Linked DNA regions of Homo sapiens. The protein of the gene in region 2 purifies or fractionates together with the protein of the main gene of each other region. This does not show direct contact. Each region holds a gene or a part of one and is shown on either strand. Other genes may lie near its edges.

Region 1 (3,500 bases), on a different chromosome or scaffold from region 2:
TAGCCTCTTCTAAAGAGAAAGTACAATTATGGACTGCATTCACCTGAAGCTGAGTGTAACACATCTTAGAAAACACATATTTATTTGCTCAGTTCTTTTATAAACATGTTTTTATATGTTTTTTATTGAAAAATGATTCATTATCTAATTTTGTTTACATAAAGCAAACGAAAAACTCATTTAAAAATTGTTTTAGTATTGATATCACACAGCAAATTGTTTAGGTCTTCTTCAGGGGATAGATAGATATATAGATAGATAAAGGTCTATTATAAAGTAAAGCTACTGACTTTCAATGTTGAAATATATGCAAGGAGAAGACCAATACATGCACAGCTTCTAGAAATATGGCTGAAAAGTAGTTTGGTGAGACATTTTCTTTTCTACCCACTTCCTCCCAGTATTCCTTACAGTGTGGTTCTATGGGGTTTTGGTTTGGTAGGAACTGGATACTTACAAGATAGTTTTGTTTTCATCACTTCAGACATGGAATCCTTCTTTTAATGTTTTTTGTTTTAATTGATACATAATAAGTAGGAAATCAGTACATTGAAGAGATATCTGTACTTCCATGATTTTTACAGCATTATTCACAATAGCCAAGATATAGAATCAACCTAAGTGTGCATCAACAATGAATAAAGAAAATGCTATTCAGCCATAAAAAAGAAGGAAATCCTGTCATTTGAGGCAACATGGATAAAGCTGGATGATATTGTCATATATGAAATAATCCAGGCACAGAATGACAAATACCACATGATCTCACTCACATGTGAATCTATAGAAGTTAATATTGAAGTAGAGAGTAGAATAGTGGTTACTAGAGGGTGGAGAGGGGAGGAGGAAGGAAAATAGGTGTTGTTCAATGGGTACAAAGTCACAGTCAGATAAGAGGAATGGGTTTTGGTGTTCTGTTGCACAGTTAGGTGATGGTGGTTAACAATATTGTATTGTATATTTAAAAATAGCTAGAAAAGGATTTTTAATGTTCTCGCCACAAAAAAATAACTATGTATGAGGTGATAGATATGCTAAATACTTTGATTTTTTCTGCAATGTATACATGTATAAAAACATAACAAAACACAGTATCTCATAAATATGTATAATTCATGTAAAATAATGCTCTAATCAAATGTGTTGAGGTATTAGCAAATCTAGATACACAGCTTAGTGTAAAAATCTTGGTCAGTGTATTTTTTAAATATAAAAGAGTACAGTACTTTATTATCAAAATAAGTATGTTGTTTCCAATAATGTTTAAATGATGAGCCAGATAAGCTGTGTCCTTGGACTTCTTTGTAATTAAATCACTTTTGAGAAATATTTTTCTATCTGTCATAATATCCTTACTAGTTTAAAACATTTCATTGATACATATAGCCTGACAATCCACAGCCTTTTAAATTTAAAAATATTTGTTAGTTTTTATTACTATAAGCTGAGGTTGGCAACTTTTAAGGGAAATAGCTAAATGATACAATTATCCAGTTAAAGTTGTGAAGATTTACTTCAGTGAATTATCTGAATATTCTTTCTGATAATTTTAGAATATTTTTTCTCTAAATTAAGAGTATCAATTTAGTATTATGAAACAATTTTTCTTGGTTTATTCACTTATTTATTGAATAGTTATTTATTTTTCTGACTTACAAAAGTTACTTCATCAAAATGCACTTTTACATTGTAAATATCCAATGTGGCCAATCTACATTCAAATTATTTTGCAATCACAGTCATTGGTGTTCCTGAAGAATCTGAATAGGATCCCACATATTCAGTCTAGTTCTGAACCCATGATTAGGCTTTCTAAGCCTAAAATTGATGCTCAACTATTCACTTCTATGAAAATCAATCTTTTCACATGGATACATTGTGTACTATCAGAGAATATTATATTTTTCTAATTAGACATAATTTTATAGTTATTAAAATTCACTCCTACATCTGAAATTTTTCAAGGAAAAAGTCTTGGTAACCTTACATTTGATATTTTCTGCTTTAAAATATCACAGAAGTGGAGACATGATACATATTTTACACATTGCTATTGATAATCTATTATATCTATGAAGGAGAAAGACAAATAATAGAGTTCTGAAATTCTTTGCATTTTTCTTAGGAATAAAAATATAGTATTCATACATATAACAGACTAATGACGATATACTTTACACATTTTTCATATGAAGGAGGGTTATTTTTTCCTCATCATTTTTATTTCTAGTGATAGAATTAATCCAATTTTGTACACTTAAAGAGAATAGCTTTTTACACATTCAAAAATTTTCACATTTACTCTAGGAAGATAAAACTATGTTTCAGTGCCCCCAAATATATTTTAATGTACTTAGAACATAATACTCAAATATTTACCAATTGGATGACTGAATAACCAAAATTGCATCAAATATGACTTAGATGACTGATTCTATCTGGATCCTGATATTTGAATATAAATGTGAATTGTTGTCAAATGAGTAACTACAGAAAAAAACAGCTAGTTCTAATAGGTTTAGACAGTAGTGAGAAACAAAGGGCCATATTGAAGCAACCTTAATAATCATATGAATTTTATAGAGCATTCACTTTGTTACAAGCGTTTGATATATGCATGGTGCAATCAGTATAAATTACATTACATGTGAAGAAAAATTTTGTAGAACACTCATTTCTGTTATTCTCAAAGAGGGTAAAATTTCTAGTTCAATGGTATCTTATAATCAAAAGGATTGAAAGTACTTAATGCAGTTAATAAAATTGATTTGACTATGGGGGTAACCACAGAACAGTTTGAAGAGTTTAAAAGAGATAAATATGTACTAGTTTTATCTTCAAATTCATGCCAATTCTTACTTGGACTATTCTTTATATTTTCTGAATAAGACTTTTGTGAGAGAAATGTCTACCTATGAAGCAAAGATCCAATATTAATATTGGATCTTTAATAATATTAATATTGGATATTTTAAGTTGTTTTAAGTTGTTAAAGCTAACATGAACACACTGTAAATGGTGTAAGGCTAAAGGGTATTTTTATGTTATTTTTATGAATTAACATGATATGTATCGATGAAAAGTGATTCTATAATATTAGATCAGAAACTAAAATTTTCTGTTTATATACAGGCCAGGTACATAGGGGGAGGACCCAGTGCTTTCAAGCTTCCACACACAGCGCCGCCCATCTACCTAAACTCTGATTTGAAAGGACCACTAACTGCTGGGGTGAGAGAAGAATATTCGTTATTTCATGTCCGTTTCATCACAGAACCCTCACAATCAAAGACTAATTACTAGACTTAGAGGCTTGTTTTTAATTAAGTTTTTAATTAACAAGAGATTTCAAAATAGCATTTAAATTGGGGGCTTATGTTATGTGTCCTGTCTATGCAAGATTACATCTAAAACATTATTTTAGGCAAGCCATTAAGTAGAAATATCTCTTCTACTGGATTTGGAAATGTTATTGTCCCTTTACAGTGAACATGAGTATT
Region 2 (4,097 bases):
AAGTAACTCTGTCCCAACTCTCCTTACTGCATTTATTAAAGAGGCTGAAAGACGCATCTGCTTTTCAATAGTTTGCGGTTCTTAAGAGACCAGGAAAGCCAGAGGTTCTGACTATTCAGGAAGAAAGTTGGGTTTCCCAAAACGGGCAAGCAAGTTCGGTGTGGTCACATCTAGGTATTCTTGACGTCATTTTTGTTGAGGGAAACAGGCTGCAGTTTTTGGAGCCAGGCTAGGATGAGAGATGGAGGGCAAATCTGTCACTTATTCTTTCCTGGTGTGCCTGGAACCCACTAGACACTCAATTCATGTTTACGTGAATGAAGGAATCACAATAACGCCCTATCGCATCTGTAAAACCGAAGGGTGATTTTCCTGGGCTGGAAAGTTTAAGAAAGAAGAGAGAGCTGCGTACCTAGGGCTTAAGGGGCCTCAGGCTGGCACTCGAAACCAGGCGTTCTCATTTCCCTTTGGCATCACCCTGAACGGCTGTGCCTGGAGCTGGCGCGGGGCTGAAGAGGGGAGGAAATACATGTGAGGAAAATCAGAGGAGAGGGTCGGGAACAGATGTGGGCATAAAGGGAAGGCCTCTGACTTGAAATAAACAAATAGGAGTCCCGCAGCTGGAAGGACAAATCCTTTCACGTCGCGGGTGATGTGGGATTGGGGCGATTTTGCTCTCCCTTTGTTCTTTCCCCTGCCTTCCACGTTTCCAGGGTATTTGATTGATGTCTGTCTTCTCTGTTAAGTTATTCCACCGTGAGGAGAGAGCCGGTGGCAGTACCTGGCACGCAGCGGGCGCCCAGTATAGACCTGCTGAACAAACGAATGGATTCAGGGGCTGCTGTGTCCCCCTCACCCACCCCCCGCCCCCTATGTGTCCACAGCGCCCCGCACGTAGTAGGCGACCCCTAAACATCTGTACAGCAAATGATTTGCAAGTTTTCGGCGCTGAGCACGTGGAGCTTTGGAAACCAGGACAGCAAATGAGTGTCTCGGAGACCACAAAAGCGGTTCCGGCGCGTGCGAAAGGCGGTGGCTGGGCGACGGCGGAGGGAACGGCGCAGAGCGGGGCGCCCCGCCGGGAGCGCTGCCTGCGTGGCGCCCGAGGCGGGGGCGCGGGGGGCCGCGCATAGCACGTGCTCGTCTGGGAGCCGGCCGGGCCGAGGCGGGCGCGCGTGTGCGCGTGGGGCGTGGGGTGTGTGCCCGCGCCGTGCCCCCCGCGTGTGCTGCCGGGCGGGCGCCGGCGTGAGTCACGGCGGGGCTAGCCTTTATAACGGCCCGGAGGCTCGCGGGAGCCGCCGCGCCCGTCCGCCCGCCGCTCCGCGCTCCACCCAGCGCACCCGGGCCCCGCGCCCCCAACTGCCTCCGGCGGCCGCCCAGTCCCGAGGGCGCCATGAGGAGCCTGTGCTGCGCCCCACTCCTGCTCCTCTTGCTGCTGCCGCCGCTGCTGCTCACGCCCCGCGCTGGGGACGCCGCCGTGATCACCGGGGTAAGCGGCCCGGGCGCACCTGTCTGCCCCTGATGCGCGCCTGGGATGTGCCCAGGGGGCTTGGGACGGGGACCCTGAAGGGCAGGCTAGAGGCAAAGGGAGGGTCGCCCTGGGCGGGGACACCTGCCCCTGTCGCCCCTTGGTGCACTTGGGAAAATACCCAGATCCAAAAGCAGCAGACGGCTGGGGACACTGGGCGCGTCCTGGAAGAAACAGTGACAAGGATGTCGCCCACCACCTTTATTACCACCTTCTCCCGCTTACTTCTCCCTCATCACCCACGGCCTCACTCCTCGCATTTTTCTTCTGTTAGGCTGAAAGAAGTTTCTCTCTGAGTCTTCTCAAGTACTTTTGGAGGCTCTCCAACCTCGAACCTTAAAATTTGACGGCCCCTTCCTGAAATGCAAAGGACCAAGACGAATTCCCCAAGTGCCCAGAGTCTTAATCCTACAGTCAAAGAGTTTGCTCCCCGATGCGTCCTCCGCAGAAACCCTTTGAAATCGCTTGGTCCAGGGCCATGTGAGCGCTTTGAAAAGCAATTGTGGGAGCTTCCTTCTGGGTTCCGGGGCTTTCCCCCGCGCTCAGGGTCTTGAGGTATCCCCATAAAAGTTTTAAATTTCTAATTCCTGGCAAAGCACCTCCAGTGCTCCAGCATAATGATGGAGTAGGTTGCTGTGTAGATGTTTAAACTTAGAGACGATGTTTTCATCTTTTCTGTAAGTAGGAACTAGTTCAGTTCTCTCCCACTCTCAACAATTTTGTGTGGATCTGAAAAAATTGGGTTTGCAGTACAATACTAAATAGTCTAGTTTACATTAACAAGGCAAAACTGCTATCATTTCCTGGTTGTTCAACTTCTTTACTGTTTTTTAAGTGAGGAATTATTTCACACCTTCATTAAATTACTTCAAATATTTAAGTGCACATAATGGGATTTAAATAAAACGTCTATGTTTGAAATGTTGATACATAGATAATATCATTTGACTTTAAAGGAAGTATCTTTGTCTTGAAAAAATCAAGCTCTATTTTCTCTATATTAGTTATTAGGTTTATAGAATTTTGAAAGTCCTTTTGCTATGACAGCATTTGTATATATCCAACAGATATTTAACTGTAAGCTCTGTGATATTTATTAGAAAAGAGATTTTTTCAAAAAATTACTTGCATAGCTTTGCCAGTCCATGTGGTTGAGAAAAACTTTTTGCAGGTCTTTCTAATACATGAGAATTGAAACATGATTGGATTTTTTTCTCCCTCTTCTCCTGCTGGCTCATTTAAAGTTTCTCCTAATCCTCTGAGCCCAAGATCCCTTTGCAATATAAGTATCTTTTTGTTCCATTCACAGGACAACACTATCTGAATAGATTTGCAATGGGTTAAGGATGAAGGGCATTAGGAAACAGCTGTCTAATTAAAAATATATAAACCTATGCAACTCTTTGTAAATTTTCCAAGAACTGAAGCTTTTGTTACAAAATAAAATTTTATCACATTGGCTGTCTATCTGTTAGAGAGGCTTAGACTGGGCTTATTATATAGTTATGTGTGCTGTTTTTGTTGTTGTTATTTTAACTCAGTGTTACAAAAAGAGAATTTTAAAAATGTCTCTAAAGCAACAGGGCAATAAAATGTAGTTATGTCTCCATGACAGGAACCATCTGGATTCAAATGAAAAACTCAGTAACTTATCAAGATACATTGTGTATAGCATGTTAAACATCCAGGTGATTGAATTTTAAAAGATTTTGGCTGGATTTTTGATTGGTTCATAAAAAAAAGCTCATGGGGCCTCAAAATTCGAGGTATTGAGCATCTGTTGAAATAAAATGCTGGCTAAAACTTTCACCTGACATCCACAGTTTTTTGGGTAGTGTATGTAGGTATTTTGAAATTGATTTATATGCCCACATAGATTTGTTAAAACTATATTGTAAAAGATCATTGACTAGACATCTTATTTATGGGATGTAATGGCTACATATACATGATTTCTGGCATGCAGATAAAAATTGGAAAATTGAAACATTTACATATTGTCCTATAAAATCCAAACACCTCAAGGTGAAATTTTTAGCTTTTATCCAGATACTTTGTTTAAATAGACTGAGAAATAAATTCTAATGAGGGAAGTAAATGAACTTTAAAGCAAAATAGTTGGTTACTTTTAATGAGAAATAATGTTAAGAATGTACCCATATTTTTATATCTTGAGAAGTTATGACTGTCCTCAAAACTAAGAATTTTGAAGGACTGTTTTAGTTGTTTCCACTAATTGTACATTTAAATTTGTGCCTAGATGATAGAGGTTTTAGTTTCTTACATATATAGTACAGGATGTTTTTATCTTATCACTACCAAAACAGATTACTGCCCACGGTTCAAACAAAGCATTCTATTTTTTGTTGGTTCTAGGAAAGAATAATAGTTCTTCAGATCCATTTTCATGCAAATAGATTTAGATTTTATTATTTATTTCTATTTACTAGAGTATGGAAATTCCTCCATAGTTGATTGTTTCATTGTATGTATTTACAACTTTTATATTGAAAGCAGGTGACTTGAGTAATTACTATTGACAATTGCACCTGTTACTTGCATTTCTTAA
Region 3 (3,500 bases), on a different chromosome or scaffold from region 2:
CCATCTTCTCTGAGTGCCTCCCATTGGCTCAATCCCACTGGAAGCCAGAAGGCCTGGGGAACTGGGACAACAGGGACCAATACGTGTCAGAGAAGGACAGACGATGGACCTGGTGGGTGTGTGGGGCAAATGGAGGACCTCCTGTATACCCCCAGCACCCCCAGGCTTGGGACTCTTGCTGGCATCTGCACCTTTGTAGTGGCAGTGCCCTACTGGATAAACCTGTCAGTCCTTCTCCACCTGGCAAACTCCTGCATCTTCAGTCTCATTTGGACATTCCCGTTTCTGTACCTCCATCGTGGTACTCAACACACAGCAATCAAGACTGCCTGCCCACGACTCTGCCCCCTCCCTGGACCAAGCTCCTTCAAGGAGTGACCCCATCTTTTAATTGTTGAGAGCACGCAGTAAATGGCAGGTGAGCAGGGCTAGGGTGACATGAGTGAGGCAGTAGCCCTTGGTGTGAGATTTAAGCGGGGGAGGAAGGGAGTTTGCTAGAAATCTTAGTAATCAAGACAAAATATTTGAATACAATATTTAAAAAAAAATCAAATCATCAAACTACAGCCCATGGGTTGGCTACCTCTTTTGAGCGCCCACCCAAACTGGAATAGCTCCCAAGACCTCTAGCATGGTGTTCAAAAATTATTTTTGAGTTGGGCGCAGTGGCTTATGCCTGTAATCTCAGCACTTTGGGAGGCCGAGGCGGGCTGATCACTAGGTCAGGAGATTGAGATCATCCTGGCTAACGCGGTGAAACCCCGTCTGTACTAAAATTACAAAAAATTAGCTGAGCTTGGTGGCACGCACCTGTAGTCCCAGCTACTCGGGAGGCTGAGGCAGGAGAATTTCTTGAACCCAGGAGGCGGAGGTTGCAGTGAGCAACCTCCACTCCAGCCTGGGCGACAGAGCGAGACTCTGTCTCAAAAAAAAAAAAAAAGGGTTCACAATGCAGGACTCATCTTTACTTAACATACCCTCTATTCACCCTGATATTTTCTATTCTAGTCTAGTTTATTTGGCGTCATTAAAAAGTGCTGCTCATACCTTTCTTTTCTTTTCTTTCTTTTTTCTTTTTTTTGAGATAGAGTTTCACTCTTGTTGCCCAGGCTGGAGTGCAATGGCATGATCTTGGCTCACCACAACCTCTGCCTCCTGGGTTCAAGCGATTCTCCTGCCTCAGCCTCCCGAGTAGCTGGGATTACAGACATGTGACACCATGCCTGGCTAATTTTGTATTTTTAGTAGAGACGGGGTTTCTCCATGTTGGCCAGGCTGGCCTCAAACTCCCAACCTCAGGTGATCCGCCCGCCTCAGCCTCCCAAAGTCCTGGGATTATAAGCGTGAGCCACCATGCCCAGCCTGCCCATAACCTTTCAAATTCTGGCTTGAAAAACATTGAGCCTGTCATATCATCCTGCTTAATTTTCTCTGCTTTTAGCTGCCTGATACTTCCTTCTTATGATTTGTCTCTTTGCTGATCTCCCGTCTTGCCTTCGGGGTACAGCTCCCTGAAAGCAGGAACCCCATCTAGCTTGTCACTGCTGTCTTCTCAGCTCCGGGAACAGCGTCTGGCACGTAGGCGGCAGGTGTCCCGCAGTGAGCTGTTGAGCAAGCGAGTGAGTGGTGTTGGAGCAGAGGGGATGTGGGCCCTGGAAGCCAGGCTTTTCTAATTGCCTTGTTTTCCTCCCCTTCCCAGTTTGCCCTGGGGCCCCAGCCTGGCCCGGGTCACCCTGGCATGAGGAGATGGGCCTGTTGCTCCTGGTCCCGTTGCTCCTGCTGCCCGGCTCCTACGGACTGCCCTTCTACAACGGCTTCTACTACTCCAACAGCGCCAACGACCAGAACCTAGGCAACGGTCATGGCAAAGGTAGGCGACCTCCTGCACCCGGCTCTTTGCTCCCCTGGGTGACCTAGACCTCCTTGGCTCTTGCTGTGATCTGAGGGTTCCAGGCTGGGACAGGGACAGCAGCCCTGTTCCAGCAGGGCCCTTGTAGTGGGCCAGCTTGCTTCTCAGACAGGGGAAGGGGTGAGTTCATTTTCCTGTGTTCGCCAGCCCCTTCGTCATGGGGCCCAATTCACTTAGGCTTTTTACTTTCCCTAAAAGTCTTGCCAGTTGTTCAAGGTCCAGCTTGAATGTGTCCTCCCCTGGTCCCCCCAGTGGAAAGGGGACCTGGGGTCGAATAGATGTGAGTTTGAATGTTTTTTTTGTTTGTTTTTGAGATAAAGTCTCACTCTGTTGCCGAGGCTGGAGTGCAATGGCACGATCTCGGCTCACTGCAACCTCTGCCTCCCGGGTTCAAGCGATTCTCCTGCCTCGGCCTCCCGAGTAGCTGGGATTACAAGCATGTGCCACCATGCCTGGCTACTTTTTGTATTTTTAGTAGAGAAGGGGTTTCACCATGTTGGCCAGGCTGGTCTTGAACTCCTGACCTCAGGTGATCCACCTGCCTCGACCTCCCAAATTGCTGGGATTACAGGCATAAGCCACCATGCCTGGCCCGAGTTTGAATCTTATAATTCTACCTCTTACTAGCTGTGTGGCCTTGGGCAGGGAACGTTTTAAAGTAGCAGTTATTGTGCACCCAACATGGGTTGGGCGCGCTTCTAGATATTTTGCATATGTCGTCTCCTGTAATCACAAAAGCCCTGATGTAGGCAAGGGTGAAAATATACCTTTTTTTTTTTTTTTTTAAGATGGAGTCTCACTTTGTTGTCCAGGCTGGAGTGCAGTGGCGCGATCTTGGCTCACTGCAGCCTCTGCCTCCCAGGTTCAAGCGATTCTCCTGCCTCAGCCTCCCAAGCAGCTGGGATTACAGGCATCTGCCACCACACCTGGCTAATTTTTGTACTTTTAGTAGAAATGGGGGTTTCTCCATGTTGGCCAGGCTGGTCCTGAACTCTTGACCTCAGGTGATCCACCCGCCTCAGCCTCCCAAAATGCTGGGATTACAGGCGTGAGCCAACGAGCCTTGCCGAAAATACACATTTTTAACCATTAGTGCAGCACGGGTGCTGACCAGGCTGAATTGATGCTGTCTGCCCTCACAGCCTGAAAGTAGATTCTATTATCATCCCTTCTCATAGATGAGCAAACTAGGCTCAGAGAGTTGATCCAGTTGTCCAGGTCAAACAGCTATTAAAAAGACAAAGCTGAGGGCTGGGTGCAGTGGCTCATGCCTATAATCCCAGCACTTTGGGAGACTGAGGTGAGTGGATCACTTGAGGTCAGGAGTTCAAGGCCAGCCTGGCCAACATACCGAAACCCTCTACTAAAGATACAAAAAATTGGCCAGGCGCGGTGACTCACACCTGTAATCCCAGCACTTAAGGAGGCCGAGGTGGATGGATCACGAGGTCAAGAGATCAAGACCATTCTGACCAACCTGGTGAAATCCTGTCTCTACTAAAAATACAAAAGTAGCCGGGCGTGGTGGCAGGTGCCTTTAATCCCAGCTTCTCAGGAGGCTGAGGCAGGAGAATTGCTTGAACCTGGGAGG

Evidence for each region. The genes of interacting proteins can lie anywhere in the genome.
Region 1: the proteins of PROK2 (region 2) and LRP1B purify together in Homo sapiens (affinity purification with mass spectrometry; one large-scale study listed by BioGRID and IntAct). This does not show direct contact.
Region 3: the proteins of PROK2 (region 2) and HAPLN3 purify together in Homo sapiens (affinity purification with mass spectrometry; one large-scale study listed by BioGRID and IntAct). This does not show direct contact.

What each region holds. Positions count from the first base shown.
Region 1 is NC_000002.12:140,234,517-140,238,016, reverse strand, and holds part of LRP1B (low-density lipoprotein receptor-related protein 1B precursor), read left to right. Parts: intron 1-3,132; coding exon 3,133-3,231; intron 3,232-3,500. UniProt on the Homo sapiens protein: Potential cell surface proteins that bind and internalize ligands in the process of receptor-mediated endocytosis.
Region 2 is NC_000003.12:71,782,349-71,786,445, reverse strand, and holds the start of PROK2 (prokineticin-2 isoform a precursor), read left to right. Parts: upstream 1-1,297; 5' UTR 1,298-1,393; coding exon 1,394-1,489; intron 1,490-4,097.
Region 3 is NC_000015.10:88,885,545-88,889,044, reverse strand, and holds part of HAPLN3 (hyaluronan and proteoglycan link protein 3 isoform 2 precursor), read left to right. Parts: exon of another isoform or gene 1-1,619; intron 1,620-1,699; coding exon of another isoform or gene 1,700-1,746; coding exon 1,747-1,870; intron 1,871-3,500. UniProt on the Homo sapiens protein: May function in hyaluronic acid binding.